Linked DNA regions of Homo sapiens: regions 1 and 3 are each linked to region 2. Evidence: fine-mapped expression QTL. A gene starts in region 2. Each other region holds a variant in brackets. All regions are shown on one strand. Distances are from middle to middle.

Region 1 (4,252 bases), 100 kb before region 2:
TATATATACACCACGGTTTCTTTATCCACTCATTGATTGATGGGCATTTGGGTTGGTTCCACGATTTTGTAATTGTGAATTGTGCTGCTATAAACATACATGTGCAAGTATCTTTTTCGAATAATGACTTCTTTTCCTCTGGGCAGATATCCAGTAGTGGGATTGCTGGATCAAATGATGGCTCTACTTTTAGTTCTTTAAGGAATCTTCACACTGTTTTCTATAGTGGCTGTACTAGTTTACATTCCCACTAGCAGGGTAGAAGCGTTCTCTGTTCACCACATCCATGCCAACATCTACCATTTTTTTTGATTATGGCCATTCTTACAGGACTAAGGTGGTATCGCATTGTCATTTTGATTTGCATTTCCCTGATTATTAGTGATGTTGAGCATTTTTTCATATGTTTGTTAGCCATTTGTATATCTTCTTTTGAGAATTGTCTATTCATGTCCTTAGCCCACTTTTTGATAGGGTTGTTTGTTTTTTTCTTACTAATTTGTTTGAGTTAGTTGTAGATTCTGGATAGTAGTTCTTTGTCAGAAGTATAGATTGTGAAGGTTTTCTCTCACTCTCTGGGTCATCTGTTTACTCTGCTGACTGTTCCTTTTGCTGTGGAAAAGCTCTTTAGTTTAATTATCTTTGTTTTTATTGCATTTGCTTTTTATCTTTGTTTTTATTGCATTTGCTTTTGGGTGCTTGCTATTTATCTTTGTTTTTATTGCATTTCTTTTTGGGTTCTTGGTCATGAAATCCTTGCCTGAGCTCATGTCTAGAAGAATTTTTCCAATGTTATCTTTTAGAATTTTTAGTTTCAGGTCTTAGGTTTAAATCCTTAATCCATCTTGAGTTGATTTTTGTATAAGATGAGGATCCAGTTTAATTCTCCTACATGTGGCTAGACAATTATCCCAGCACCATTTATTGAAAAGGGTGTCCTTTCCCCACTTTATGTTTTTGTTTGCTTTGTTGAAGATCAGTTGGCTGTAAGTATTTGGGCTTATTCTGTTCCATTGGTCTATGTGCGTATTTTATACCAGTAGCATGCTGTTTTGATGACTATGGCTTTATAGTATAGTTGGAAATCAGGTATGTGATGCCTCCAGATTTGTTCTTTTTGCTTAGTCTTGCTTTGGTTATGTGGGCTCTTTTTTGGTTCCATATGAATTTTAGGATTGTTTTTTCTAATTCTGCAAAGAATGATGGTGGTATTCTGATGGGTATTGCATTGAATTTCTAAATTGCTTTTGGCAGTATGGTAATTTTCACAATATTGATTATACCCATCCATGAGCATGGGATGTGTTTCCATTTGTTTGTGTCATCTATGATTTATCTCAGCAGTGTTTTGTAGTTTTTCTTTTAGAGGAATTTAGACTCCTTTGTTAGGATATTCCTAAGTATTTCATTTTTTTTTTTTTTTTTGCAGCTATTGTAAAAGGGGTTGAGTTCTTGATTTGATTCTCTGCTTGGTTGCTGTTGGTGTATAGATGAGCTACTGATTTGTGTACATTAATCTTGTATTCGGAAACTTTGCTGAATTCTTTTATCAGTTCTAGGAGCTTTCTAGAGGAGTCCTTAGGGTTTTCAAGGTAAACAGTCATCATCAGCAAACAGTGACAGTTTGACTTCCTCTTTACTGATTTAGATGCCCTTTATTTCTTTCTCTTGTCTGATTGCTTTGGCTAGGACTTCCAGTACTACATTGAAGAGGAGTGGTGAGAGTGGGCATTCTTGTTTTGCCCTAGTTCTAAGAGGGAATGCTTTCATCTTTTCCCCATTCAGTATTGTGTTGGCTGTGGGTTTGTCATAGATGGTTTTTATTACATTAAGGTATGTCCCTTGTGTGCCAATTTTGCTGAGTTTTAATCATAAAGGGATGTTGGATTTTGTTGAATTTTTTTTTGTATCAATTGAGATGATCATGTGATTTTTGTTTTTAATTCTGTTTATGTGGTGTATCACATTTATCGGCTTGTGTATGTTAAACCATCCCTGCATCCCTGGTATGAAACTCACTTGATCAAGGTGGATTATCCTTTTGATATGTTGTTGAATTTGGTTAGCTAGTTTTTTTTTTTTTTTTTTTTAAGGATTTTGGCATCTATGTTCAGCAAGGATATAGGTCTGTAGTTTTCTTTTTTGGTTATGTCCTTTCCTGGTTTTGGTGTTAGGGTGATGCTGGCTTCACAGAATGAATTAGGGAGGATTCCTTCTTTCTCTATCTTGTGGATAGTGTCAATAGGATTGGTACCAATTCTTTTTTGAATGTCTGGTAGAATTCTGCTGTTAATCCATCTGGGCCTGGACTTTGTTTTGTCGGTAATTTTTCTTTTATTTATTTATTT[T/A]TTTTTTAGGCGGAGTCTCAGTTTGTCACCCAGGCTGGAGTGCAATGGCACAATCTCTGCTCACTGCAACCTCTGCCACCCAGACTCAAGCAAATCTCCCACCTCAGCCTCCCAAGTAGCTGGGATTATAGGCGCCTGCCACCATACCTGGCTGATTTTTGTATTTTTAGTAGAGACGGGTTTTCACTGTCTTGGCCAGGCGGGTCGTGAACTCTTGACCTCATGATCCACTGGCTTCAGCCTCCCAAAGTGCTGGGATTACAGGCATGAGCCACTGAGCCACTGCGCTCAGCCCTTGTTGGTAATTTTTAAATTGCCATTTCAATCTCGCTGCTTCTTATTGGTCTGTTTAGGGTATCTAATTTTTCCTGATTTAAGCTGGGTGGGTTGTATTTTTCCAGAAATTTATCCATCTCTTCTAGGTTTTCTAGTTTATGTGCATAAAGGGGTTCACAATAGCCTTGAATGATCTTCTGTATTTCTGTGGTGTCAGTTGTAATATCTCCCATTTCATTTCTTAATTAGGTTATTTGGATTTTCTCTCTTCTTTTCTTGGTTAATCTCACTAATGGTCTTTCAATTTTATTTACCTTTTCAAAGAACTAGTTTTTGTTTCATTTATCTTTTGCATTTTTGTTGTTGTTGTTTCAATTGTATTGTGCTCTGATCTTGGCTATTTCCTTTCTACTGATGGATTTCGGTTCAGTTTGTTCTTGTTTCTCTAGTTCCTTGAGGTGTGACCTTAGATTGTCTGTTTGCACTCTTTCAGATTTTTGTTGTAGGTGTTTAGGGCTGTGAACTTTCCTCTTAGCACCACCTTTGCTGTATCCCAGAGGTTCGATAGGTTGTGTCATTACTGTCATTCAGTTCGAAGAATTTTTAAATTTCCATCTTGATTTCATTTTTGACCCAATGCTCATTCAGGAGCAGGTTATTTAATTTTCGTGTATTTGCGTGGTTTTGAAGGTTCCTTCTGGAGTTGATTTCCAGTTTTATTTCACTGTGGTCTGAGAGAGTGCTTGATATAATTTCAGTTTTCTTAAATTTATTGAAGCTCATTTTATGGCCTATCATATGGTCTATCTTGGAGAAAGTTCCATGCACTGTTGAATAGAGTGTGTATTCGGCAGTTGTTGGATGAAATGTTCTGTATATATCTGTTAAGTCCATTTGTTTCAAGGTATAGTTTAAATCCATTGTTTCTTTGTTGATTTTTGGTTTTGATGACCTGTCTAGTGTTGTCAGTGGAGTATTGAAGTCCCCCACTATTATTTTGTTGCTGTCTATCTCATTTCTTAGGTCTATTAGTAATTGTTTTATAAATTTGGGAGCTCCAATATTAGGTGGATGTATGTTTAGAATTGTGATATTTTCCTGTTAGACAAGGCCTTTTACCATTATATACTGTCCTCTTTGTCTTTTTTAACCACTGTTGCTTTAAAGTTTGTTTTGTCTGATATGAGAATAGCTACCCCTGCTCGCTTTTGGTGTCCATTGGCATGAAATGCCTTTTTCCACCCCTTTACTTTAAGTTTATATGAGTCCTTATGTGTTAGGTGAGTCTCCCGAAGGCAGCAAATAGTTGATGGGTAAGTTCTTATCCATTCTGCTGTTCTGTATCTATTAAGTGGAACATTTAGGCCATTTACATTCAGTATTAGTATTGAAATATGAGGTACCATTGCTTTCATCTTGCTCTTTGTTATCTGTGTACTTTGGATTTTTGTTTTTGCTTTTTAACTTGTATTTTTGTTTCATAGGTCCTGTGTGATTTATGCATAAACAGGTTCATTTTGATGTGTTTCCAGGATTTGTTTCAAGATTTAGAGCTCCTTTTAGCAGTTCCTGTAGTGGTGGTTTGGTAAAATTCTCCCAGGATTTGTTTGTGTGAAAACAACTGTATC
Region 2 (4,252 bases):
ATACAAAAATTAGCTGGGCGTGGTGGTGCACGCCTGTAGTCCCAGCTACTTGGGAGGCTGAAGCAGGAGAATCGCTTGAACCTGGGAGGCGGAGATTACAGTGAGCCGAAATCATGCCACTGCACTCCAGCCTGGCAACAGAGTGAGACTCCATCTCAAAAAAACGAAAAACGAAACAAAACAAAAAAAGTCACACCTCCAGTAAAAGAATGAATTCAGTTGCCCAGAGTCTGTGGTCTTTCTATAACCCTCATAAGTATAACAGTAAAACTCCAGCCAAGGAAGACAAAGAGACCTTTAGAGACCAAAGAGAACTTTATTTAATTCAGGCATCCAGGCCCACAGCAGACTCATGCCCAAAATGGCTGCTGACTCTGACAAAGAAAGCAGGCTTGCTTATATGTCGTTTGAGGTGGGAAAACAAGGCAGGATACAGGTTTCAGGCAAAGACAGTAAATTATTTAACCCGTGACAATTCTGAGAAAACTTACAATTTAGTTATCTTAACCAGTCAATCTTGAAGCTAGACAGAGATGGGGTAAGGTAAAACAGGAGTTACAGAAATATGTGGGGGTCTGGGGGCAGGCAAGAAGCTTGGAAGGTTGAGATAAGCTCACAGCTGCAACTTGTTAGCAATGCTGGGAGGGGCTACTTAAATTTCTTAGCCTACATATAACTTCTAAGTAACCTATACTTAATGTTAACTATTACCTATGTTATGCTTATTATTTTAAACTTTATTATTACTTATTTTATTTTATTTTCCTTCCACATAACTTCCAAACTGTCTCCCAAATTCAGTCTAGTTGATTAGAGTAAGAAATTTCACTTTCAATATACAAGGATTGAAAGGACCTCATCTAACCTTAGGTAGAGGTTCCACTTAGTATCACCTCTAATCGATGGTCTGAAATACTAGACATAAGTAGAGTCTCTTTCCCATCAGCAGTCTGACTGAGTGATACAGGACACTTAAAATGTGTTAAGCATTGAGACTGTGACATGCCTTCAATAGTGTTGGCCTCAGTTTTAGAATTAACATGGAATCCTGTTACAGAAATGATATATATTATTGTGACAAGTACCACTGAAGCTCACAAAAGGAAAAGATAAAAAGATGACAAGCAACTGAGAAGAAACAAGCCTCTTAAAAGTAAAAGTACTTGACAAATGGGAATTATCATACTTCTGTGGATGCAAAAGTTTGGTAGGCAGAGGTTAGTACAGTTTAATGTAACTTCCTGTGAGCTATCCTTTGCCTGAAAATATGGCTCTGATCCTATCTACAGCATTATATTCCAAATCTCTTTTGATTTAGAAATTCTCCTTAATATTTTCATAGCTATGTCTGAAAAGCACAGTTAATTCTTAAGACACTCAGGCTTACTATGATACTCTCATACTGTGGAATACAGAACTAATCTTGCTTCCTTCTCTTTTTAAATAGGCCCATTAGGCTCTCGTTCCCACTGTCATAAGGATTCCACTTTGTCTCCCAGGTTCATACCTACACATGCCTCATTAAAATTCAACGTGTTTTCAACTCCCAAAGACCTTAGTATTTGGATGAGAAATACTTGTTATATCCAAAAGAAAGAGAGTACTTGAGAGAGAAAAAAGTTAAACAAGGATCTCTGAGCGTTGATGGCTTTGTAATTTTTAATTTTTCCGCAGTTGTTTTGGCTACCATTTGGAGAGCATTTCATTTCCAAGAAACACAATTTGCCAATTACTCCAGAGATCCTGTTAGAAAGGAAATGGGTGAAAATGCCTCAGAGCAGTGGCACAAATGACCCATTCCCTTCTTATTTTTAGTGTTCATTAGTAATCATTTCTAGATTCTAGCATCTCTCTTATACCTGCCGCTTAAATACATAACTGAAACCCTTAGTAATGATTTGTCCTTTGGTGATCAATTTCAGCAGCAGTCACAAGGCATTTTAAATGAACAGAGGCCCCATCCGCCCCTAAAGCGGCCCATCCGACAAGAAGGGACAACTGGAAGTCTTACCCTTGACAAAATGTATCTGGATGATGTAATAGACAGCACAGTATTTCCATTTTTTCTCCATTGTCTTCTGAACACCTTACACCAGCATTTCTGTAATGATCACAAAGTCAATTGATGTTTTCAAGCAAACTCCAGCCACCCACTTCGTGCTAAAAAACCCGAACTCTACCACACACGCCTGGGTCTGTTTATCACTTGGCAAGCCCCCAGGAAATGAAACGTAGACAGGAAAGTAATGTGGTTCAGGACTGAGTATAACGTTCGACAGAACAATGTTGAAATTGTTCTCTGAAATTTGTGTATCACCTTATTTAAGAGACTTTTCAGTATCCAAAGAGTCTCTTATTCAGGATCTCTGTGTCAGTCAAGCTGCGTCTAAAATCCAAACAAAGGATATCACGCAGAGCAGTTGGCAATGTGCTTTTTATACATTTTTTTCAAGAGCACAAAGTCATTTAACAAATGTGAGCTTGGTGTTTTTCATAATAGTTTTTCTGTTCAATCTTAAGATATGTTTTCTTTCCAGAATTGCCCTGGGGTGAAAGAACAAAGAATTAACACATTTAATTTTAATAAAATCTGAAAAGTAACAGGGAATAGTGTCAGCTATCAAACCAAATTTTATTGTCTCTCCTCTTGCAGGGAAATGCACATTTCCTGGGAGTGGAGGAGTGAGGGCTACTTTTCTACCCCTCGTCTGGGAAGACGAGGGAAGGTTGGAGGTCAGATAGGGAAGTCTCCCACCAGGTTGGCTGGAGGCCATTTTTGTTCACCACAGAAGAGTTTATCCATGCCTAAGCCAAAGCAAGGCAGTAACAATCAGAATCCAAAGGCAGAGAATTCCCACCTCAGTGAGCTATTAGGCTTATTACATCTGCCTAGTTACTTCTATTTACAGAGAACCGCAAACAGGTTTCAGGAAAGTGACCCCTTGGTAAAAATGTCTGGCTATTCGTAGAACACGATGACTGTTCCCTGCTATGATTCTCTGATTTAATTGTATTAGTTTTTCAGCCTGAGATAAAATAGGCTGTCATCACCCTCCAACATTAAGAAAACAAGCATTAGACTGAGGACTACTGTAAGTTTGATGGACAAAGAATAACTACAAATAAACATGTGTGTCTTCATACAACCGTATGAATGATTAAAATATCCTGTGACCCTAATCTCATTACTAGAATATACGTACCACCTAGCAAGACCAAAGACAAATGAAAAGGCCAGTTGTAATCCTGAGATGGGAATTCTTTTCAGGTGAGGTGGAGATAATTTTCGTCAGGTTGTCATCATGTATACACCAATCTCTCCTATGCAAGGACTCGTGGTGAATATGGACGATGCTAAGACAGAAGGAAATGCTTTTGCCATTCAGGAGATTAAATTTAGATGGGAGAAGAGAGGTTTTCATGTAAATAAACAAGGGCGACTGTCTTCCTGGACGTCCAGATCACCCCCTATACCACCACTGCAAATACTTGCCATGATAATTGCCATACTTATTCAGTATTCCTCAGCTAATGATTTCTTGCAGAATTTAGATGTAGTTACTGCTTGCCTAGTCCAGTGCTCCCCAAACCTTTATTATCACCCCTTCCCAACTTCCCATGAGTTTCAGGTCACTGGGGATATTGGGTCAGGTAGTACTGACAGTGATTTTCCAGGGAAGGCCTGGGAACTCAAAGTCCTTTATAGAAGGTCAGGAAGAGACATAACTGCTCTGGGTAGCTTCATCTCTTCCCATTGCCCCTGGAAATTCTAGTAAATCAAAGTTTTATGAAGCATAGCAGCAAAAATAGTCCTGGAGATGCACTATGAAGATCCTGATTTGCACGTTGGTGTCCCTATTAAATCAGGACACATTACAAGCCTGGAGAAGGGATTCTATGATCTCGTTCCATTTTTCATATTAAGAGGAATTTACCTAAGTAGAAACCAATTCAAATATACATTTATTGAATTCTCTAAGAACAATACCCTCTTTGGGGTATTTAGACTTCTCCTATCTTTTATTGTATTAAAGTGAAACAGTTGTTCCAAAAAAGTCTGTAAACTCAGAAACATGGAAATGGTCGTTTATTTTCCAGTGCTACAGACTTACTTTCAGTAGAATTCTTGCCTCTCATTGGGGTTGGGCTACCTGAGCCATGCATTTAGTGGCTATACGGCAAATCTGTCTTCTGTGTATTGTTCAGGGCTTAGTTAATGATTCTTATATCTAGAAACTTCTATGGCCTGAAG
Region 3 (4,252 bases), 110 kb before region 2:
CATACTTCTCCATTACTTGGCAGCCTTGTTAGCACTTTTACATTTTCTTTTTCCTGTAATTATCTTAGGGAATGCAGCAAAGCCCCAGGATTTTGGCAAAGAGTTTACAATGTTGATAGATGTTCAAATAAGAGGATCAGGCATGGGCATACAGTTGAAACCATTGTTGTCCCTCCATCAGAGAATTTAAATGAAAATACTGTATTTTTTTTTAAAGATGGCAGACTAATATGTACTTCTTACATAAGCAAGAAAACCACTACGAATTGCATTGAGTGTGAACATGACATATCCTCTCACTCTTGGTTAAGCTTCAGGCGTTTGGAGATGGAAGAGGGTGAGTTGCTGGGAAAACAGGTCACTCACTTCTGACTTCCATTTCAGCTGCAGCAAAGGCATGGCTGAAGAGCGACTATATTAATAAAGCACAATGTCTACCTTCTCAATAGGATTCCAGCAGAGTTCTGCCATGGGGCAAAGTCTCACGAGACTAGAGGGTCTCCATCTCATGATAAGGCAGATCACTTTCGTTGGGCTCTTGAATGCAAGTGTACTTGATGGGAGGTGGTGGTGGCTTGAAAGGTGGAGGTCTTTCCATTCTAGGAACAAAATATTGGTCTTTCAATGCTAAGAATTGAGGGAGTCTTATGCACACACACACACAGACATGTGTTGTTTCTTTAAAGGAGAACACAGATTGATGAGAAAGAGACATACTCTCCCAGTTCTTTCAGCATTTTTGCTGGCATAACCCTGTGCCTGTTAGTCACATTTGAACCTCATGATCTATACGGTATTTTGTAGTTTGCAAAGAATTTTTATCATAACATTATTTACTTTGTATGTAGAAATTGCCTCACCATCTACAGATAAAACTGAGCATTTTTATCATAACATTATTTACTTTGTGTGCAGGAAATGTATCATAACATTATTTACTTTGTGTGCAGGAAATGCATCACCATTCTACAGATAAAACTGAGGCTCAGAGGTTTTAAACAACTTGCTCAAGAGAACCAGACCAACAATTCAAGTCTTTTCACCAGAACTGATACTCTCCATGACAACTGCCTCCTAATAGAAGAAATGTTTCTTTTATGTGGATTAAAATATTCCTCCAGAGACTAAATCTTAAAATCCTAGGATTTAAGACTGAAGCTTTTCATACAGCCTCTTTGCTAACCCTAGCCCCAGCCTTTGCCCAAACACTCACTATGTACTGCGGGGATAGGGTAGAGATGGGAAGTAAAGCTCTTCTCAATCCCCGAGTACTGGCTAGATAATGCCTAAATCCCTTTTGTTTGAATCAGTGAACATTCTTAAAGTCATCTTTGTACAAAGAACTATTTTATGTTAGTACAAGTAATCTCTTTTTCCGAAATGCATTAAAGAGCCAAGTTAGTATGGAATTTAGCTATACAAATGCTCTAGCTATCTTGATATCAGGCAACAGAAATATATCTGTGAACATCTTTATGTTCATCACTCAAACACCTCTATGCCCTGGCAATCCATAGCATCTTAGGAGAGATAAAGAGTGGGTAGTGGGGGAAGGAGGATAGAGAGATTGATTCTCATCTCCATATAAAACAAACATTTGAATACAGAACAATTTAAAAAATCAGTTCAGATTTTCAGATTTCATTTGTTCATTTAATATAAAGCTCTCTAATCCCTATTACCCAATTTTTAGATGCTTTAATGGAGACTTCATATGTATTAATAGGTAATTCTACGAAACATGCACTTTTGTTTTACTTTTGTTTTTTGGGGAATTATGAGTTTCTCAAGGTCATGTGGTGGCCAAATTGTAGTCCTTGGAAAATAATCCAGAATTTCTAACTACTGGTTTAGTGTTTTGTTCACCACTCCCTGTATGTGGTTACAGAGTCTTCAAGGATACTCTGCAAAAGGTAGGAAAGTATATGGCACAATGGTTAATGTTATCTTAGAGTAGTAGTAAGACAAGTGGAAGATCAGTTCTGGGTACTGGGGTCCCTTCCAGTTATGGCCCAACCCAGACTGACTCAAAATAGCAAGTCAGAAAAATGAGGCTTAACCTTATGTACCATTTCAGACTGCCGATTGGAGAAGGCTTTTGGAAAATATTTCAATAAGACAAAAATGGGGTAACCCAATGCTTACTTTCTTTTCTGCTTGGGAAAAAAAGAAAAGGGCAGTAAAAGCCCACTCTGGTAAAAAA[AG/G]CAGCTGGAAATCTCTTAAAATTACCTTTCTCACTCAATTTCACACTTGAGCATCTATGACCAGTGGAGCCTAGGCAGTTCAAAGATGCATGAAAATGAAAAAATAATGAAGATTAAAAGAAAAATCAGTTTTAGTTTTGAGGAGAGGTGAGGCTCAGTTCTCATTTCATGTCCACGGACTTGCTCTATCTGACGAATGTTACAGCCTGACTAGGCCAATGCAGAGAGGGATACTGAGTCAGGAGTTGTGTATTTAATCCCAACTATGTAATGCTGGGAAAGCTATATAATCTCTCTGAGCTTCTGTGAGCATTATTTCCCCATTAAAATATGGGAGGAACTTCATAGAGTAATAATATATTGTACTGATGAATATTTTATAATGAAAAATTAATCTGTTCCTACATATGTTAGTATTATACTCACATTTCTTTTTGGTACTGACACCATTTTCTCACTCCAAGACCAAACAATATCATGCAGCAAAAGAGTAAAGCTGCTACAATCACTGGCCAGGACATTCCATCTTTGGGCTTATTGACCACAATACCTGAAAAGGGCATAAAGAAAGATGAACTTTAATCCCAAACTTTGGCATTTGGAAAACAGGATTAAACCATTTTTCCTACGTGAAACATATTTTCTTCAACATTGGCTGTGATCATACTCTGGAGGTGGGCATGTCTAAGCCTTGTTACCTACATGAGGTGATAACTTTTAAGAGTTAATTACGTACCCTACCAGAAATTTTCTGTGGATATATATAAGCATACATATGTACCATGAATATATACCCTTTTTATTACAGTTGGGGGCATATTATACACACTATTCTGTCCATGATTTCTTTTTCTTTTTTTTCACTATTTTAGGTTCAGGGGTACATGTGCAAATTTGTTATATAGGTAAATTATGTGCTGTGGGGATTTTGGTGTACAGATTATTTTGTCACCCAGGTAATCAACAGTGCCTGACAGGTAGGGTTTTTTTTTTTTTTTTTTTTTAATCTTTACCCTCCTCTCAACCTTCAGTAGGCCTCAGTGTTTGTTGTTCTTGTCTTTGTGTCCATATGTACTCGATGTTTAGTTCCCACTTAATAGTGAGAACATGCTGTAGATGGTTTTCTATTCCTGTGTGAGTTTGCTTAGGATAATGGTCTCCAGTTCCATCCATGCTGCTGCAAAGAATATTATCTCATTCCTTTTTATGGTTTCATAGTATTCCATGGTGTATATGTACCACGTTTTCTTTATCCAGTCACTGTGGATGGGTGTTTAGGTTAGTTCCATGTCTTTGCTTTTGTGAATAGTGCTGTGATAAACATACGTGTCCATGTGTCTTTATGGTAGAACAATTTATATTCCTTTGGGTATATATCCAATATAATGAGATTGCTGGATCAAATAGTAATTTTTTTTTTAAGTTCTTTGAGCAATAGCCAAACTGCTTTCCACAATGGCTGAACTAATTTACATTCCCACCGGCAGTGTATAAGCATTCCCTTTTCTCCACATCCTCACCTGCATCAGTTTCTTCTTCTTTTTTTTTTTTTACTTTTCAGTAATAGCCATTCTAACTTATGTGAGATGGTATCTTATCGTGGTTTTAATTTGCATTTCTCTAGTGATTAGTGATTTTGAGCTTTTAAAGTATCCTAAGAAGGTAAAAATCATTTTACATTTTTAACATTTTACATTTTACATGTTTTTTTAAGAATAAGAGGCCAAAAGACATACACCTGGCCTCTTTTTCTTAAAAAACATTCTTGGAATACTTTCCATATCACCACACAGAGATTTACCTCATTCTATTAGATGACTGGATAGTTCAATGGATATACCAGTTTATTTAATTTATCTCACGATGTTAGATGGTTAAATTGTTTCCAGACTTTGTTATTGCTAATGATACTCCAGTGAAATTTCTTATACATGATAGATAGGTCTTTAGGTATTTCGATTACATGGATCATTTGGGCAAAAAGCTATCTGGATTGGTTTTCTTTCCTTGTCTCGGCTAGGTAGTAACTGCTTGTGAGTGAAGACAAG

The links. PIP is the estimated chance that this variant, and not a neighbour inherited with it, causes the effect.
Region 1: its variant is the best candidate, but not a certain one, in a credible set for the expression of CD96 in whole blood (INTERVAL, PIP 0.86).
Region 3: its variant is the best candidate, but not a certain one, in a credible set for the expression of CD96 in whole blood (INTERVAL, PIP 0.74).

Annotation. Positions count from the first base shown.
Region 1 is chr3:111,640,909-111,645,160 of GRCh38, reverse strand. All of the region lies in intron 12 of CD96 (CD96 molecule), which reads right to left. Among named protein-coding and RNA genes, the nearest start is that of PLCXD2, 32 kb to the left of the region's middle. The variant T/A (reference allele first, on the strand shown) is at 2,349.
Region 2 is chr3:111,540,069-111,544,320 of GRCh38, reverse strand. CD96 (CD96 molecule) reads right to left here and starts at 2,124. Exons shown (of 14, transcript NM_005816.5): 1 at 2,012-2,124. The coding sequence starts at 2,072. LOC105374039 (a long non-coding RNA gene) reads right to left here. Exons shown (of 3, transcript XR_001740846.1): 3 at 2,318-2,386.
Region 3 is chr3:111,646,045-111,650,296 of GRCh38, reverse strand. It overlaps CD96 (CD96 molecule), which reads right to left. Exons shown (of 14, transcript NM_005816.5): 13 at 2,631-2,754; 14 at 1-599. The coding sequence ends at 491. Among named protein-coding and RNA genes, the nearest start is that of PLCXD2, 27 kb to the left of the region's middle. The variant AG/G (reference allele first, on the strand shown) is at 2,204.